Homo sapiens: one gene and its partner. The protein of the gene in region 2 purifies or fractionates together with the protein of the main gene of each other region. This does not show direct contact. Each region holds a gene or a part of one and is shown on either strand. Other genes may lie near its edges.

Evidence for each region. The genes of interacting proteins can lie anywhere in the genome.
Region 1: the proteins of SSC5D (region 2) and GCC2 purify together in Homo sapiens (affinity purification with mass spectrometry; 2 studies listed by BioGRID and IntAct, with this or other methods). This does not show direct contact.

Annotation. Positions count from the first base shown.
Region 1 is NC_000002.12:108,501,076-108,504,831, forward strand, and holds part of GCC2 (GRIP and coiled-coil domain-containing protein 2), read left to right. Parts: intron 1-3,756. UniProt on the Homo sapiens protein: Golgin which probably tethers transport vesicles to the trans-Golgi network (TGN) and regulates vesicular transport between the endosomes and the Golgi.
Region 2 is NC_000019.10:55,498,399-55,502,154, reverse strand, and holds part of SSC5D (soluble scavenger receptor cysteine-rich domain-containing protein SSC5D isoform 1 precursor), read right to left. Parts: intron 2,340-3,756; coding exon 1,743-2,339; intron 1,666-1,742; coding exon 1,351-1,665; intron 1,122-1,350; coding exon 954-1,121; intron 1-953.

The sequences.
Region 1 (3,756 bases), on a different chromosome or scaffold from region 2:
ACCTCCGCCTCCCAGATTCAAGCGATTCTCCTGCCTCAGCCTCCCCAGCAGCTGGGACTACAGATGCACGCCAGCTAATTTTTCTATTTTTAGTAGAGACGAGGTTTCACCATGTTGGCCAGGATGGTCTCAATCTCCTGACCTTGTGATCTGCCCGCCTTGGCCTCCCAAAGTGCTGGGATTACAGGTGTGAGCCACCACGCCCAGCCATTTTGTTGTTTTTTTATCTATAACAATTATATATATAAATATATTTTTAATGTGCCACTTATTGAAGAAAGTGGTCATTTATGCTATAGCAGTCCTGTATTTGGGTTTTAATCATTACAGGGTAACACTGAACTTGTTCTAATTGCCTATAAATAGGAAGATCCAGGTGCAGTTGGGTGGGATGGTGGACAAAAACACATCATAGATGGTATTGTGTGCTTTCTAAGACATCAAGAGGCCCAGAATGTCCAGACATCTTACTTTTGCCTGATTGACCTTATCTAGTTGGTGTTCTTTAACATGTTCCCCATCCCCTGTAAACCCTAATAACTAAACTGATAAGAGTCATCCTCAAAATTGAGCAGGCATCTGAATCATCTGGTATACTTAGTAAAATTCCAATTGCTGGTCCCCAATTTCTGACCCAAGACTCTGCATTTTTAGCAATTTGTTGCTGATACTTCTGGTCTGGAGCCCATACCTTGAGAACCCCTGGTCTAGAGGCCTGATAAGATTCAGGCTTAATTTTTTTTACAGACATACTTCATAAGTAGTATTGATAGTTTCTTTGAATCTGGTTTTTTATAATCTTTCTAATGATGAAGGAGGAATGTTCTCAATACTGACAGTAATCTCAGTTCTTCAAACTATAGGATAGGTTTCTGTAGCCACAATAGTATTTTCGTCACAAGGGCCCAAATAAGAATACATCATGTGTATTTTTAGTAGTTATTCAAATTACAAATTCACTGTCTTTAATTTATTCTAACAAAAGTAAACCTAATTTTATGATTATAAAAAAGAAGAAATCTAGTTACCTAAGAGTAAAACTGCCCCTATAAAAAAACAAGACAGAAATCTCAAAATTATAACTAATTTTATAGTTATAAAATCAACCAGGACTTTAAGAACGTTTGCATTTTAAAATTAAAGTTTTCAATAGCTTTCAATACAACAATGATATTATCTCAAAATACTCAGCATGTCTAACAGGCCTCTTTTAAAAGCTCAGCATGTTTAATGTAGATGTTGCTAACGTCCAGGTGGCTCCTATAAGTTAAGGGTCCATTGATTTAGAAGTTCTAAAAGAGACTAACCTAAGGGATACCAAGAACAGATATTTTTAAAGAATTTCATAGAGGAGATACACATTAGAAACCCAGAACTCTAAGATGTGCATTTGCTAAGTCCTGTAAACAGACAGGAAAACACATTTAAATTAGTTTGCCCTTTAAAGATTATTTACTACTTGTCTCTTATCAATGTGAGTACATAAAAGAGACCTTATTACAATTAAAAACAATGATGGTTTAGCAGCAGATTTAGATACCTTACATTCTCTCTTAAAGAGAGAGAATGTAAGGCCTGGCACGGTGGCTCACACCTGTAATCCAGCACTTTGGGAGGCTGAGGAGGGTAGATCACCCAGGAGTTCTAGACCAGCCTGGCCAACATGGTGAAACCCCGTCTCTACTCAGAATACAAAAATTAGCCGGGCGTGGTGGCACATGCCTGTAATCCCAGCTACTTGGGAGGCTGAGGTAGGAGAATCGCTTGAACCCGGGAGGCAGAGGTTGCAGTGAGCTGAGATGGTGCCATTGCACTCCAGCCCGAGCAACAAGAGCAAAACCCTGTCTCAAAAAAAAAAAAAAAAGAATGTAAACTACAAGATAGTTCAAAAGAAATTACACAGAATTCAGCATGGGAGAAACAAAAAACAATAGTGGGAAAAGACATCAAACATGTTTTTACTAATTGAAGTTCTAAAAGGAGAGAAAAGAATACAGCACAGATAATATATGAAGAGAATGGCTGGAAATCTTTCAGAACTGTTGAAGGATATCCACAGATTCAAAAACCCAATAAAATCTCAAGCAGTATTAAAAAAAAAAGAAGAAATCTACTTCTAGTCACATAAGAGTAAAACTGCCCCTAAAAAAGACAGAGAGAAATCTCAAAAGCAGCCAGAGAAAGAAGACACATTGCCTCACAATAGACTTCTCAACAGCATTGGTGTAATACTATCTCATGTACTAAAAGAAATAACTGCCAACCTTTTATATTTTCCAAGATCTCTTCTGGAAAACAAAAACTTTAAGAATCTGCCTTCATTGAAAATTCTTAATGATGTACTTTAAGCAAAAAGAAAATTTCCTAGGTAAAAGGTCTAAGATGCAAGAAAGAAAGACATGCAAAGGAAACTTACCACCATATTACAGATATGGACTGTCAGTCTGACTGGTCACACTAGGGGCATTTTGTTACCAAGGCCTTGAAAATAATAACCAACACTGCATACATGAGGGATGCCAGAAGAAAGATCTGAGAGCCACTCTTCCTGGCACTGAAGGAAACAGGGCCCATCAGAGCAAACAAGTACCTTTTGCCTCTCTCATCTCCTTGGAGGCAAATGTTTATAATCTCTGGTTTTGTGTAAAGTTTATAACAGTATTTTTCATTCAGGTTGCTACCTATTAGTGGATGGTGAAATTAATTTGGTGGATCACATTCAGAATATTTTTTTAAAATCAAAAGAATACAAGCTGGGCTCAGTGACTCACACCTGTAAGCCCAACAGTTTGGGAAGACCAGGCAGGAGGATTGCTTGAGAACAGGAGTTCAGAATCAGCCTGGGCAACATGGCGAGACCCTATGTCTGCAAAAATTTTAAAATATCCCAGATCTGGTGGCATGTGTCCATAGTCCTAGCTACTCAGGAGGCTAAGGCAGCAGGATTGTTTGTTATAAGGAGTTCGAGGCTGCAGTCAAACTTCTGGTCGAAATCCTGGTCATGCCACTGCATTTCAGCCTGGACAACAGAGTAAAACCCCATCTTTAAAAAAAAATTAAGAAATAAAAATAATATGTCAAACATTAGAATATGTTGCATCTAGTAAGGGTAAGCAATTATTTCTTGAAACTCTACATATATACATGAGTGTTGGTAAATACCTGACTGTATCATCAGCTCTAGATATAAAATGTTTATGATGTTGGCTGTAAGTTAATGAGGAATAGTTTTCCTTTCTGTGGGTTTGGGTGTATTTGGGAAACATTAGCTTAGGGGGTAAAGTAGGTTACCCAACTCGGAAAAGCAACATCAAAGTCCTTATAATTAACACATATTAGGGGCCCAACTTAAATTTCAAGCAGATGTCATGAGCTGCTCAGAGTAGCGTGTTACAACTCTGCGTTATAAGGTAAAGTGACTTAGAGTGTAACAGTAGTCCCCAAACAATGTCAAATAGACACTGGTAAGTATAGATTGCTCCTCTCCTTGCATCACAAATGTTAATTCACCTTGCCCCCACACACATTAAAACTCAGCATATTTCACAAATTGAGTGTTTCATTTCTATTTCAGGTAGACTTATGGTAAGTCAGTTTTGCTCCCCAAATAAGTTAGCCATATAGTACTTCTATATGCAAAATTTGAATCTCAATTTTACTACTCAAGCAGGAAGTAAAAGTCATTTTTCTATATCTTCTTTGCTCCCAGACTGTGTTACAGTTTACAGATCTGAATATTGTCACTTGTACACCATA
Region 2 (3,756 bases):
GAGTGAGACAGGAGGATCGCCTGAGCTCAGGAGTTTGAGACCAGCCTGGGCAACATAGTGAGCCCGTCTCTACAAAAATTAAAAATGAGCCGGGTGTGGTGGCGCACATCTGTAGTCCCACCTTTTCAGGAAGCTGAGGCAGGAGGATCGCTTGGGCCCGGGCAGTCAAGGCTGCAGTGAGCTGAGATCACACCACTGCACTCCATCCTGGGCAATACAGAGATAGAGATGATGAGGGTGAGAAATGGATAATGAAAAAAAGAGACCAACAGCAAGTGAGAAACAGGAGCAGAGATGGATTCGCAGGGATCCTGAGAGATGGGGATACAAGGAAGACAGGCAAAGAAAAAGGCAGAAGAATGTGGTGACAGTGATGTGGGGGCCAAAGCGGGGCGTGGTCCCAGGTGTGGAAGGAGCTGCAGCAGCAAGACAGAGGCCATAGAGCAGAGGGGGATGGAGCTGTGGCCCTGGAGGCTGATTCTGCTGGCCAGAGGGAGGGGATGGCCAGGGTAAGGAGAGAAGCTGCACTCCAGGAGTCCCCACCTCTGAGCCATACCAGGCCCGGACCAGAGCGTGAGCTTCAAGAATGGGTGAGGTTTCGCTTGCTCTGGGGGAGCTGGGGTGGGGACGATGATGTGATGACAGAATGGCCCTTGGTTGTGGGTTTGACTGAGGGCCCCAGGCTTGCATATTGTGTGGCTTACAGGAGGGCCATGGGCTCAGGATTGCTGAGCTTAGCCTGATCTCTTAGATGGTGTCCTTGGCTCTGAAGAAGTGTCACCATTGAGCCCAAGGAGGTAATGCGTTTAGGGTCTCAGGAGCCAAGGAAAACCTTTCCAGGGTGCCCCGAGGCCTCAGCCAGCTCATTGAGAAGGGTCTTTCTGGAAACCCTGCAGGGAAGCGAATGGAGGTTTATGGAGGCCCTCCATGGCCACCCCAATCAGGCCTCTCACCTGTGTCCGGCAGGCGCCTTATTGCTGGGGAGGAGCTACCCGGGCGCCGGGTGGTCCTCCAGGGGAGAGTGTGTCCAGGTACCCCCGCTGTGGTAGTCCCCTTGGCCAGGTCCTCTCTTGAGGTGGGGTCCCAGGTCCAGGGGGGATAATCGTCATAGTCTGTGTAGCCTTTGGAGAAATTGGGGTAATGGTTGACCCCATCCTCTTTCTCAGAGGTCCTTGCTGCTGCTCTTCCCTCCCCTTTTGGAATCTTCTGGAGCAACTCTGGGATCTCCCCACCCCGACCCCTCATACCCAGTTCTTTAGAGTCGACCATGGTGCCGTCACCTGGCCCCACCCTGACTCCATTCTCCTGGCCACCCCCGACAACCCCACCACCGCCGCCATGCCCTGGTACCAGTGCAGGTGAGCCCCACGTCTTCCTCGTGGTCACAGTTGTGCTTCCCCCAAGCCCCCGAGGGGCAGTCGCTCAGTGAGGCCTCGCTTCCCTTACAGCCCATGTCATCCAGCCAGATGGGCCCAGTCCCAGGGCCGTAATGGGTTTTGCCTACTCGAGGCCGGACCTTTCCACAGCCCAGTTCCCAGCAGGCCACAGTGGCGTCCCGCAGGTCCCAGTTGTCATCACACACTGTTCCCCAGCGTCCGGCATGCCACACTTCCAGCCGGCCAGCACAGCGGTTGGGCCCATCGGCCAGACGAACCCGGAACAGGCCTGCGTGGAAGGCCCTTAGGTCAGGAGGGAGGGTCAGCCTCTCCCATTCTCTCCCCACACCCCTCACGGCCACTCACCTGATTCCCCAGTGGTGCTAACACTGGGAGAGGGGGCCGGGTCTTTGGGTGACTCTGGAGACCCTTCTGGGATCTCAGCAGATGGCTCCAGGGAGGCCTGAGGGATACTCTTGATAGTGGACTCAGAGGTCATTTCTTGGGGGCCTTGAGTGGTCAGCATTGCCATGGTCTTAGTGGTCCGTTCTCGGGGGGCCTGAGGGGTCAGCGTGGCAGTGGTGTGAGAGGTCCATCTCTGGGGGGCCTCCGTGGTCGGCCTTCTGGTAAACTCAGAGGTAGGTCTTCGGGAGGCCTCAGTGGTCAGTGCTGCAGTGGTCTGTGAGGTTAGGTCTGGGGGGCTTTGGGCCCTGGAGTGTTTCGTGGTTGGCATCACTGGGGGTTGAGTGGTTGGTCTCTTTGCATTTTTTGTCACCCACTTCTTAGTACTCTTAGGCATTTTCCCTGGGGCCTTCGTGGTTGTTTTCTCCAGAACACTGGCAGTCACACTTGCAGAGGGCTTGGTGGCCAGCTCTCCCGGGAGCCAGGCATCCCGATCTCTCCCCAGTCCAGGAATCCAGCTCCAGCTGAAGGGGTCTGAGATGGAGTCCAGGCCTGGGGGCCCTGGAAGGTGAGTGGGGCAGGAAGAGAAGACAGAGACACCATGATGACAAGATCATCTACCCAGGCCCCTCCTTCTCTCCAGTCACTCACCCAGTTCCCATTCATTCATCATTCATTCATTTATTGTCACAAATATTTATTGAGCACCTCCTATGAGCCACACACCATATTAGACCCTCGGGTAGCCTATGGCAAGCCAAACCCGACACTGCCCCCGCCTTCTTGGCATTTACAATCTGGACATAACTGACCCCCTCACCCTTTCACACCTGACCTCTCCTCTCCATCTCCTCAGCTTCTGCTCTGAGTCAGGGCCTCATTTCCTATACCTTCTGACAGGTCTCCCTACCTCCCTGTCAATTCTTACTGACCACCAGTGGGGTACCCAGGTCCGACAGGCCACTCCCGAACTCAGAATCCTTCTGTGGTGCCCCCGTGGCCCTCAGGAAGACGGGGACAGAGGGAAGAGCCGTAGCTTCCAGCAGAGGTGATGCCTCCATCCTTTGAGACACCACTCTCCATCTTCCATCTTTCTGATTAGCACACGTGTGCAGTAAAGGATTAACCCTGCCCAAAGAAAGGTTTCGCCTTTTCCCCGGCTCCTGGGAGATGACTTCGAAGCCTTTGGAACACCTTGCCTGATAAGAGATTTTTTTCCCTGGGGCACTTGGGCCATGCCAGATCGCCTATGCTAACAGTGTGATTTATGGTCAGCCACATGTACGTGGCCAAGTCCCCACGAACACTCTGGATGCCAAGGCTTGGGGGAACTTCCCTAGTTGGCAGTTCCTCATGTGTGTTGTCCCACTTCGTTGCTGGGATAATGAAGTGCTGTCTGCATAACTCCACTGGGACAGGACAGTTGGAAGCTCACACCTACTGTCTCCTGAGCCCTGCCTCAGGCGCCTCTTCCCTTGGCTGATTTTAATCTGTATCCTTTCACTGTGATAAACGATAACGCTGAGTGTAACAGATTCTTTGATTCTAAGAGTTCTTCTAGCAAATTATTGAGTCTGACAGTGGTCTTGGTAACCTCAAACTATAACGAGTCACACAGGTTTGCAATGATTTGTTAGAGTATTTCTCTACATGAGCTGTGAGCTATTCAAAGACCAAGACCATGTTCATTCCATTCATGAGCCCAGCATGAGGACCCTGCACCTGGCTCAGCCTCTGCAATTTAATAACAGGCATTGCCTGAGTTTATGTTAACTGGCTCTCACTTTGGCTTCTTTCCATCTCCCAGTGCCCTGCCTGCTTCCTTTCATCGTAGGAAAGCTAAAGCTCCTTTCTTAGTGGGAAATTTCCTTGATTCCTGGAAGGAAGAGGAAGCAGAAGCTTCTCTGAGTGGGAATCCCAGATCTGCCAGTTAGTTGTTGCTGTGTGATCTTGAGCAAGTTACCCAACCTCTCTGTGC